Homo sapiens: one gene and its partners. The protein of the gene in region 3 purifies or fractionates together with the protein of the main gene of each other region. This does not show direct contact. Each region holds a gene or a part of one and is shown on either strand. Other genes may lie near its edges. The genes, in order: ERMP1, SIRPB1 and TYROBP.

Region 1 (3,649 bases), on a different chromosome or scaffold from region 3:
TTTCTTTTTTTTGAGACAGAATCTCGCTGTCGCCCCAGCTGGAGTGCAGTGGCTCAATCTCAGCTCACTGCAGGCTCCGCCTCCCGGGTTCACGCCATTCTCCTGCCTCAGCCTCCCGAGCAGCTGGGACTACAGGCGCCGCCACCTCGCCCGGCTAATTTTTTGTATTTTTAGTAGAGACGGGGTTTCACCGTGTTAGCCAGGATGGTCTCGATCTCCTGACCTTGTGATCCGCCCACCTCAGCCTCCCAAAGTGCTGGGATTACAGGCGTGAGCCACCGCGCCCGGCCAGCCCTAATTTCTAATTTTATTTTTGCCAAACAAATTTATGCATTTGAAACCATAATAATATAACAATATTCTCAGTATAAATCATTTGGAACCCTATTTCCCTTCCCTCTGTTTTCCTTAGCAATGTGTCTTTTAACTCCAATGACATACATGCATGCAGAATCTGAATCAACAATATACAGTTAAAAAGAAAAAACAGTGAGGGAAAAACTGAAAAAACTTTAAGTACAACATTCTTTTAGGCAACAAATACTTGCTGTGTGTTAATGCTGTGTGTCAGACACTACCTAAGCACAGAGGATACAGAAATAAATAAAACAATCCCTATCCTCAAGGAGCTTACACTCCAATGGAGAACAGATATTCAAATAACATAAATAAGTGGGTGAGCCCAGGACATATTTACAAACACTGCAGCAAATTCAGTAGAAGGCTGTGCTAACAAGCCTTCCAGTCACCACCACCCTAACACTGTTAACAGCCCGGCTTTATAACCTCATTTGAATTTTGTGACATTACCCTCAGAATAAGAAATCTTTCAGAAAATTAACACAGTGTAGGTGCGTTTTCCATAACCATGCTGAACAATTTTTTAGCACTCAAAAGGCCAAATACAATGAATCACACTTAAGTTCATCTTCAGTCCCTGGAGGCAACAGAAAGAAATCAACAAATATACCAAACACTTACCATGTAATAAAATCTTTTCGCAAGAGTATGTATAAGTATTATTTTGGCTACAGTTGCAGTTCCATACAGACAAACGGAGACATAGAAGTGGTTATACCATGAGAGAGACTGTCCAATAAGAGAGATGAACACTGCTATAATGAGAACGGTAACAAGGCTAGTGAACCAGCTGATCAAAGTGATGCCAAGTCCACACAAGAAGTCCTTCTTGTAGTTACCAGCTAATGAAGAGAAAACAAAAAGTTGAAATCACCATCTTCATCAAATCAGTTATATAACCAGTCAGTAGAGCTAAATGGGCAAACATTAAAACAAAAAACTCCCCACTGTACTTGAAAAGTATGAAAATGTCCTAGTGTTGAGATTGGCCAAACACAAGAACAAGGGAGGTATCAAATAATAATATTCAGGTAACATTTATTAAGAGTCTCTAGATACTAAACACTCAAAAAGATAAATCTTCTAGGAATAGTTCAGGTACATTCCTTATGAAGGAAGAGGATAGTCTTAATCTTCTTCACTTTTGGTATGCTTTGTGTATCAAAATATTAGCAAGAATGGAAGGCAAAGTTCCATATAAAATGTTGTTAAAATAAGGTAACATAAGAAGATAAGGAGTGTGGGGAAAATAAGCGTTGATAAAGAATTATTTAAACTGCTGCTAAATATTTTATCTCGTAACAGCACACAACAACTTAGACTCTGAAACATTTCAAGCAGAAATATTTCAAATAAAAGAAACAGTTTAACCACAAGCAGTTCATTCATACTTCGTGACACTGGTCCATACTAGCTATTGGTCTGTAGTGTGGACTTTTTAATGGGACTTTTCATTAGAAGTCAATCTGTACAAACCATTTTTCAATAGTTTCTATGTGGTACTTTTATGGAGTGCCTAAATATATAAAAATTGACTGCTTCACCAAGACTAAAAGTAAAATAAGCATATTAATTTAATATTTAAAAATTTCTTACAATATAAAGCAAACATTGTCTTAAGATTTTTAGCTTTCTGGGAAGATATAAACAAACTGACTGAAAAACTTCAAGCACATTCTACAGCAATGCCAGTATTTGTAGTTTTAGAGGAAAATACTTACTCTTATGTTTGGGCTGCAAAAATTTTTTGCCCAGGTACAAAACAACACCCATTACCACCATGTAGTTTATGATTGAGCCAATACGAGAGGGGTAGGCAATGACAAACAGGCCCAGCACATCAAAGAAGACCATGTTTCCATGTCGATACTTAGAAGCAGCAGCCAGCATATCAGATGTAGCTAGATGCTTAAGAACTGCTAAAATGTTGTCACCTATTAGTAAAAACAAAAAAAAAAAGAAAGAAAAGGAAAAAGATAAAAAGGCTGAATAAACTATTTGTGATTTACACATACCACTATTTAAAGCAGAAATAAACCATATACTGTTTGAATGAAGAAATGGTTAGAAAGAATGTGAACAGAAATCGCTTTCTACCATCCTACTGCTCTCCCTCACTTTTTTTACTAAATTTCTCAAATAAGGTCCATCCCCTGCCTTTCTCCATTTCCTCTCCACTCAGACGCTCAGCCAACTGGCCTGTATCTTTTCCCTTCTATTAGAACTATTCTCTGTGATCAATTGTACCTTCATTGTTGACAAATCCAATGGCTGTTTCTTGGTACCCATTCATTTAATAATATATATTAACTGTACTAGACACTCTTCTAGATATCAGAAATTTAGTGGTGAACCAAGAGACAAAGGCCTTTCACGAAGCTCAGAGATGCTGAACAAGCTGTCACACATGTGTTAAAAATTGAGGAGAGCTAGCAGAGTTCCACAGGAAAACATCATGGGAGACTAACAGAGCTACATTCTTACCACTCAGCAATCCTCCCAACCCTGGGCCAACTCCTTTTTCATTTCCTCACAATGAATATTCCTGACCTTAATTGCTACACTAGACTACAAGACTAAAATTCAAGATCTCATCTCTCCAACTCCAAAGCCCTAGCTCATTCACATTGCATACTGCCTCTCTAATGCACAGGCCACAGAATATTTACAAGTTTATGTATCATCCCTAACATTCCATCTTAGTGTATATCAAAAGTCTAAATTGGAATACCAACCTGCTCTCTGAATGGAATCTGTTAGAATTCTGTCCGCTGTGTCATACTTGGTGTGATAAATGTATCCATTCTCAATAAAAGCTAAGTCTATTCCTAAAACATATATATAGAAAAAAAAAAGTCATTTTGCTTTAAAGATCAACCTTGCTTTCGACCTATTTCTTTAATAAATTCCTAAAAGACAAAATGTCAAAGCAGTGGCACGATTGCTTTGTCACATTTACAAACGACTGATATAAATTCTCTTCCAAATTCTTACACAGTCTATAGCTTTGGTACATAATTCGATACATAATGATTGAAGAAGTATATTACTCCACAGGTAGGCATTACAAGTCACACAGCAAGGATAGGAATATTGAGTTTGGGAGGTCATGAAAATTTTGCCACCTACATTCTTGCCAGGCCAGAGCCAAATTTTAACTTCAAATAAGTTGTACATACAAGTTGCCAAGGGAGTTGGCAAACCAAGACAACAACGAAAGACCCCTGAAGGATCTATTACCATCTTTTGGGAATGAGGTGCTAAACAGTTCACCCCTGTTCTTCTATGG
Region 2 (3,649 bases), on a different chromosome or scaffold from region 3:
AAGTGATATGATTTGACTTTTCCAAAGAATCACTGTGGCTGAAAAATGAAAGCCAGAGGAGTGGTCCCCAAAGAGATGATGCTGGCTGGGACAGGGAGGGGTGGTGGAGGTGAGAGGTGTGGAGAATAGGGATTTAACTCTGAGGTTTCCAGCAGCAGGCTTGGACTGGGCCCTGAAAACCAATTGTTAAATTTCAGGAATCTTGCAATCTGGTTGTTTAACTGTTGGCAGTGTGAAATTGGTCAGGTTGGGAGTTATTACACTAGAGAAATTGGCAAGCACTGCAAAACAGCTTTTGGTTTTTCCCTTTCAGAAAGTCCATTGTTAAACATTTACCATCTCATGTAAGTGGACACATGCATTTTGGAGGCAGAACTGAATATGAGTTGTAAAGGGCAGTCATCGAGGGCTCCTCAATGTTGGGCTGTGGCAGCATTTCTACCACAAGCAGCAGGACTGGGAAGGCTGCAGGATACTAGAAGAAATACTGTCTCCATCACAGAGAGAGAAGGGAGAGCTTCTTTCTTTTTGGGTTTGAGGGATAGGATGCTTGGACAAAGAGGAAAGAGAATCATTTTTTTCTTAAAATTGGTATAGGGGTTCATGTGTATTCAGGAGGCAGTAGAGAACCTCAACAAGGCTGGGGGAGTTGGGGTAGGCAGGAATCCAGAAGACAGGATAACTCTTGAGAGCCTGGAGAGAGTCTGTGGTTTATGGCCAGTCCCAAGGCGACGGATGGGAGAAGTCCTGGTGTGTTTAGATTTGGAGTGTTTCTCACCTTCTAGGGAGGTGCCATGAGTCAGTGCCCAGAGCCCAATCCCATGGCCCCTGCTCAGGACCGTGAATAGAGACACTGCTTTGGGGCATCATGGTCTTGTGAAGGTGGAACAGGAGCGTGTGGGCAGGCAGATGACCTGGGAGAGGAGGCGTTTGGAGCTGAGTGTGGGGAAGGTTCTCGCCAGCTCCTTCTCTCAGGCTGAGCTTCTCAAGAAAGGAGGAGGCAGCAGAGACTGAGGGTCCTACATGGCAGGGAAGGAAGGAAGGAGCTGTTGGAAAACACATCCACATTCATTCATCTGCTCATCATTTAAGAAATGTTTCCTGAGAGCCTGATATGTCCCTAGTGCTGGTCTCCTCTTGGGATGCCTGTTATGGGTGGACAGGCAGACCTGAGATAGGACTCTGCCAGCTCAGCACTTCTTCCAAGTCCTGATGCTCCCTCTTCCCCGCTTTCCACTCAAGCACACAGAAGGTCAGAGCAGGAACAGCCCTCAGAGCAGCCTATCTGGGAATTCTCAACACTACGGTGGGGATTACTTTGAACCCATGGAGTCCCAGCAGTGGCCTCCAAGGGACCACCCACTCAGTTGGCCCTCACTTAGACCCCTCTGTCCACCTTTTCCATGGGACTCCTAGGCCACTGGGGACAACTTTGAACCCCCTTGAAGCATCCCACCTCCTGTAATACCCTTGACCATCCCAACTCCTGCACACTCCCTGGGGGTTGGGAGCCCCATACAGGGTTCCCTGAGACTCCTGAGTATCCTGAGGGAGCCCTGTCACCTTCTGTAAACTCCACTGACCCTGAAGCTGCATGGCATGTGAGCTGGGCCCTCCTGCTGGCCTTGCCTTTCTGGAGGAGCCCTTGGTCAGTCCTCCCTCTCCTAAACTTACAGTCAGGCCTTCTGTTTCCAGCAGATGTAGATGGCAGAGACACCAACCACCAGTAGCAGCTTGGGGCCCAGGAGGAGAGCTACGAGGAGTGGAGCAGTAGGAGCCAGCGCTGCTTCTGGAAATCAGGGAAGAGGAGGAGCCATGAGAGGGGCCACCTGGGAGCTCATCCCAGGGGCCTCCACTTACCCCATCTGAGGCTACCTGGGCCCATCAATCCTCTGAAGCTTTTGAACTTGCATCCTGCTCTGGCTTTCCTGACTCCAGCCGAAAGCAAAGGCCAGGGAAAGTGGCTCCTCATTCTCACTCACCCTGTCCCAGGCTGCCAGTTTATCCTCCTGGAGGGAAAAGGTGGAGAGAGTGTGTGCTCAGGTATTCATATATGTGGCAACTGGGTTCCTCACTTGATCCTCACACGCCCATGGGGCAGGGATTATTATTCCATTCTGATGGGGAAACTGAGGCCAGAGAGTTTAGGGAGTGTCAGGAGATTAGTAGGATCCAAACCTAGGGAAGCCCATCATTATGTCCCCAAGGGTGACTCCTGAGTCCAAGACAAGTCCAACACTCCAGGATCATGAGAATGATTAGTAAAGGGTGGGCAGGTGGTGTGAGGATGGATTCAGAGTGAGAGAGTTGCATGCTGCCCTTCTTAGCCCCAGGGGCAGGGAGAGGACCCCATATTCTCATGATCTCAGGGAGCCCTCCAGGGACAAGACCCAATTAAACCTGCTGGCTGGAAAATTCCCTGGTGAGTCAGGGAATGTGCCTCGGGCTTGGAAGGGCCTCAGACATCATCTCTCCTACCTCAACCCCAGTGCAGATGTCATCTGAAATCTTTCTGTTGGACACAGAGAGTCAGATCTACGGAAGCTCATGTTGGGACTGTTTGCATTTTTTAAATAAGGGGTTTTGGATGTTAAAAGTAACAAAGGTATTAAAAAAAATTTTTTTTAAAATAAAATGGTGCTGGTGGGTCCTTAAGGAAGGAATGGAGACCTCAGCATCTATAGCCGCTGGAGTGTTGGAGTGTTGCAGGCCGGCAGTTCTCAGATGGGTGGCTCTCTGGGGCTTTCTCTCCTTTGAGGAGAGCTGCACTGCCCAAGTTTATTCCTTCTAAGGGGCAGCCCACATGAGAGATAGACTGCATTGGGAATATGAAGGGCCAGCCCTTCCCCTCAATTTGAAAAAAATCTACAGGACCCTCCGGCCTTTTGCCTCTCTGCAAGAGCAGCTGCATCTTTGTACTGCCTGCACTGTGGCTCAGCACCTCCCTCCTCCTACACTCCTGCCTCCTCATTCCTGAGGCATGTTGACCCTGACAGCACTCTAGGATGCCTCCTGCATTGCTTTATGCATCCTCAGGTGGCCTCCCAGAGAAACTGTCCTTGGGAAGTGGTCTGGAAAGAAGACTCTAAAATATAAGTTGGGAATCTGATTACTCATCAGCTAGCAATGAGGACCCCAGGGCTGGTGGTGAATGGGACTGGAGAAGCCGTGACTTGCTGTTGTGTTGCGATTGATAACACTTTCACTGGCACTAAACTGGGATAGTGTTACCACAGGAAGGAAATTCCTTGCCATTAGCCTTTTGAAAACAGATTGGGAAATGGTCGTTATAAGAACTAAGGTGTTAGCTGTTGCTGGGCATGAACTCTTGGGAGGAAGGCAATGAGAAACTAAGAGTGATTCATCATGAGTTAAAGTTCAGCTGGAAGCCAGAGGACTTCTTGGCAGCACTGCAGATTCTTATTTCTTGGAGCCACAGGGCAGAAGGAATAGAGAATTGGGTCCTGGGCATCATAGAAGAGTAGCAGAATCACAGCGGAGCATGAATCTCAGTTTCAATGGCTGCTATGCTGGGATAGGGCCCTGATGGGGAAGTTGTGGGACCCTGAAATGTGGAAGGAGACATTTGGGTCAAACCACTCAAAGATTGTCAGTTGACTTCAGAGTTACTGGGGACAATTGCAGTGGC
Region 3 (3,749 bases):
ACTCTGTCGCCCAGGCTCACTGCAACCTCCGCCCCCTGGGTTCAAGCGATTCTCTTGCCTCAGCCTCCTGAGAAGCTGGAATTACAGGCGCATGACACCATGCCCAGCTAATTTTTGTATTTTTAGTAGAGATGGGGTTTCACCATCCTGGCCTGGCTGGTCTTGAACTCCTGACCTCGTGATCCACCCACCTTGGCCTCCCAAAGTGCTGGGATTACAGGTGTGTGCCACCATGCCTGGCCAAAAAAAAATTTTTTTTAATTATAAAGAACATTTACACTGCTCTCAGATTATATGCACAATTTTGTATTTTTTGTGTAGATTTTTCTGGGAGTCTAGATTTTCTTAGTTTCTCAAAGGGATGAAGGGTCCTCAAACCCAAAAAAGAGATTCTAGGACTCCTCTCTTTAGAGTTACCAAGGTAGGGCTGAATGACATTCTCTGCCCTACTGAGAGCGTCTCCCAGAAATCAGTCGTCCTAGGGCTGGGTTTCTTCCAGAAAATTCCTGGCCTGACTTCTGGCAAGGCCTGTGTTTACACTTACAAAGGCAAAGCCACCCTTTTTTTTTTCTTTTTAACTCTTCACGCTTTTTTTTTTTTGACAGAGTTTTCCTCTTGTTGCCCAGGCTGGAGTGCAATTGCGTGATCTTGGCTCACTGCAACCTCCGCCTCCTGGGTCAAAGGATTCTCCTGCCTCAGCCTCCCAAGTAGCTGGGATTACAGGCATGCGTTACCACGCCCAGCTAATTTTGTATTTTTAGTAGAGACAGGGTTTCACCATGTTGGTCTCGAACTCCTGACCTCAAGTGATCCACCCGCCTCTGTCTCCCAAAGTGCTGGGATTACAGGTTTGAGTCACCGTGCCCAGCCCCTCTTCACACATTTTAAGCTGACCATAAGCTTGTGGTTGATCATTCGGCCCAGTTTTGGACAGATGTCCCATGTGCCTTCAAGGTTTGGGGGTGCTTTAGGCAGAGTGGCTTTGAGGTCCCTCTGATGGCATGAAGGAGTATCTGGGGCAGATATCCCTGGCAGGAGTGAAATGTGAGGAGGACAGTCTGGTTTTCTCACCTGATAAGGCGACTCGGTCTCAGTGATACGCTGTTTCCGGGTCGCTGCTGGAGGTGAGGGGTGTTGTGGGGTGCAGAGACAGGCAGAGTGGTGAGTTGAGGGTGTTTTGTCATTCCAAATCAGCACCTCCATTACCATCCCTTTGGATGTTTGAGATCTGGGAGTTTACCCAGCCCCCCACCCCCATCTAGGCAAGTCCTCAGGATGTCCCCTGCTAGCCCCACTCACCCTCCGCAGCCCCTCGCCCCCGAGGGACCAGCCGGCCCAGGAAGTACACGGCCAGGGCAATGAGCACTGTCAGCACCAGGTCTCCCATCACGATCCCTGCCAGCACGCCCGGGCTCACCGTAGAGCAACTGCAATCTGCAGCACAGGGGTCAGGGGAGGTCAGTGTGTGCTGGGAACTGTGGGGAGGGGGGTCAGCGGCAGGGAGGTTTGGAAAGGGTGTGGGAGAGACGGAGACAGGGAGGTCTCTGGGAGGTAGAGAGAGGGACTGCTGGGTCTAGGCCTACCGCTCTGGGCCTGGGCCTGGACAGGACGGAGACCTGAGGAGGAAAAAGAAGGTAAACTGAGGCACAGAGTTATGACGGGGGTGGGGGAGGCAAGTTTAGAAGCCAGGGAAGGTGGATCCTGACAGCCAAGAGGTTAGCAAGGGGGAGAGCGTGTCTGGCGGGACTCAGGGGGCTGGCGTCTGGGCCACCGGACTATGTGCGTTACTTCTGCACAACTTGTCCTGTGGCAACACACTTAGATGTCTCTTCTCCCCTGCTTGTAGCGGACGACAAAACTTGGGGGCTTGGGCTCTGGGAGAAACCCACAGGCTTTGGGAGGTTGGGGACCTGCTCCCATCCCAACACCCACTTTTGGTTCTCTCGTTCCACCCCACTCCCTGCCCTGCCCCAAGCTGAGCCCAGGGACCCGGGAGGCAGCCACGGAAGCCCCTAACTCACCACTTACAGCCAGCAGGAGAGGCAGGAGCAGGAGCCTGCTGCAGGGTTCAAGTCCCCCCATGAAGCCGGATGCTGCTGGACACCACAGTGTAAGGGCCGGTGGGATGTGGCGCAGCGTCCAGGCAAGTGAAGGAGGAAGTCTGAGGCGGGTGGTGGCAGAAGGGAGGAGGAGACAGGGGAGGAGAGACAGAAACAAAACCCAAGAAAGAATCAGGCCCAGACACCCAGGGGCCATGCCACAGGCCCCCAGCAACTAGACGTGAAGGGCAAAGGGTACGTGAAGCACAAACTTCACCTCCGTCCCCAGTCAGGGGTCAGACATCGTTTTAACAGGAGGGTCAGTGTCATGACCTTCCTCTGGCTGATTGAAACCAGCTCTGCCTCTTCCTGGCTGGTCAACCTTGAGTGCAATGGCACGGTCTCGGCTCACTGCAACCTCTGCCTCCCGGGTTCAAGTGATTCTCCTGCCTCAGCCTCCCAAGTAGCTGGGATTATAGGCGCCTGCCACCATGCCCGGCTAATTTTTTGTATTTTTTTTTCTTTTTTTTTTAGTAGAGACAGGGTTTCACCATGTTGGCCAGCTGGTCTCAAACTCCTGACCTCAGGTGATCCACCCACCTTGGCCTCCCGAAGTGCTAGGATTGCAAGTGTGAGCCACCGCACCCAGCTCCAACCTCAGTTTCTTCATCTGTAAAATTGGGAGTAAAATGGGACCTACTTTTTAGAGTTGTGGGGATTAAATGAATTAAAGTTCCTAGACCAGGGTCTGACCCTTGTCAGCTTTTTAAAAGCATCAGCTATGATGATGATTATTTAATCATCAGAAACTTGTGCTGTTTAAAGGATATTAAAAGAGCCAGCAGCATGTGGGCACTAATGACATGCAGGCACTCTGTCCCAAGCGTTAAATCATTCAGTCCCCGCAATGCCCTTCTAGGGCACATGCTCTTATCATCCCCATTGTTCAGAGAGGTAGAGACGCTTGCCTAAGGCTGCACAGCAAATCAAGGTGGAAATGGAACCCAAGACCCAAAATCAGGTTTTTGACTAGGGAAGAGTCAGGGGGAAAAACAAAGATGAAAGATGGGGAAGGAGAAAACAGCGGCAAAGCTGAGAAAGGTGAGAGTAAGGCAGTGGCACAGACACAGAGGCACGGCTGGCGGCTTGGGGAGAGGCAGGTGGCTGGCTCTCCTGCTGAATGAGGAAGTGGCTGGGAGCAAGGCCCAAGGGAGGCCACCCCAAGGAGACGGGGACTTCTAGCCCCCAGCTGGAGCCTGGGGCTGGGGAAGGAGGAACCTGAGGTTAGGGTGCTGGAGGATGAGACAGCTGCAGGAAGCCCCCCTCCCCCATCCACACGTCACACCCACCGCTCCTTGGGCCTGGGCTTAGGAGAAAAAAGGGGAAACTGGATTCTGGTCACAGGGCAGATGCCCAGTGGCCTGTGGGGGAAGGGAGGAGAGGAGATTTGGAGCCTGGAGGAGGGTCAGGTCCCAGCTCAGCCCACGGTCACCACTGTTCAGGCCTGGCTGAGTCCCCTCCCTTAAAAACCCAAGCCTCTCCCATTGTGTCTAGAGCGAGCATGGAGGGAACAGACCCTGTAGGTCCTCCCGGGCACACCAGGCCACCCAATGTGTTGGAGCAGAGTGGGCGAGGGGGCAGTCAGAGACCAGAGCAGGGCTCTGAGCCAGGAGGGCCCTGACCTGACTCAGGGGTTCACAGGTTCCCTCC

Evidence for each region.
Region 1: the proteins of TYROBP (region 3) and ERMP1 purify together in Homo sapiens (co-immunoprecipitation; 2 studies listed by BioGRID and IntAct, with this or other methods). This does not show direct contact.
Region 2: the proteins of TYROBP (region 3) and SIRPB1 purify together in Homo sapiens (affinity purification with western blotting; 2 studies listed by BioGRID). This does not show direct contact.

The regions. Positions count from the first base shown.
Region 1 is NC_000009.12:5,809,030-5,812,678, forward strand, and holds part of ERMP1 (endoplasmic reticulum metallopeptidase 1), read right to left. Parts: intron 3,189-3,649; coding exon 3,096-3,188; intron 2,295-3,095; coding exon 2,082-2,294; intron 1,203-2,081; coding exon 982-1,202; intron 1-981. UniProt on the Homo sapiens protein: Within the ovary, required for the organization of somatic cells and oocytes into discrete follicular structures.
Region 2 is NC_000020.11:1,564,479-1,568,127, forward strand, and holds part of SIRPB1 (signal-regulatory protein beta-1 isoform 1 precursor), read right to left. Parts: intron 1,790-3,649; coding exon 1,677-1,789; 3' UTR 1,675-1,676; intron 1,020-1,674; 3' UTR 1-1,019. UniProt on the Homo sapiens protein: Immunoglobulin-like cell surface receptor involved in the negative regulation of receptor tyrosine kinase-coupled signaling processes.
Region 3 is NC_000019.10:35,906,147-35,909,895, forward strand, and holds the start of TYROBP (TYRO protein tyrosine kinase-binding protein isoform 1 precursor), read right to left. Parts: upstream 2,150-3,749; 5' UTR 2,083-2,149; coding exon 2,022-2,082; intron 1,617-2,021; coding exon 1,584-1,616; intron 1,435-1,583; coding exon 1,300-1,434; intron 1,119-1,299; coding exon 1,072-1,118; intron 1-1,071. UniProt on the Homo sapiens protein: Adapter protein which non-covalently associates with activating receptors found on the surface of a variety of immune cells to mediate signaling and cell activation following ligand binding by the receptors.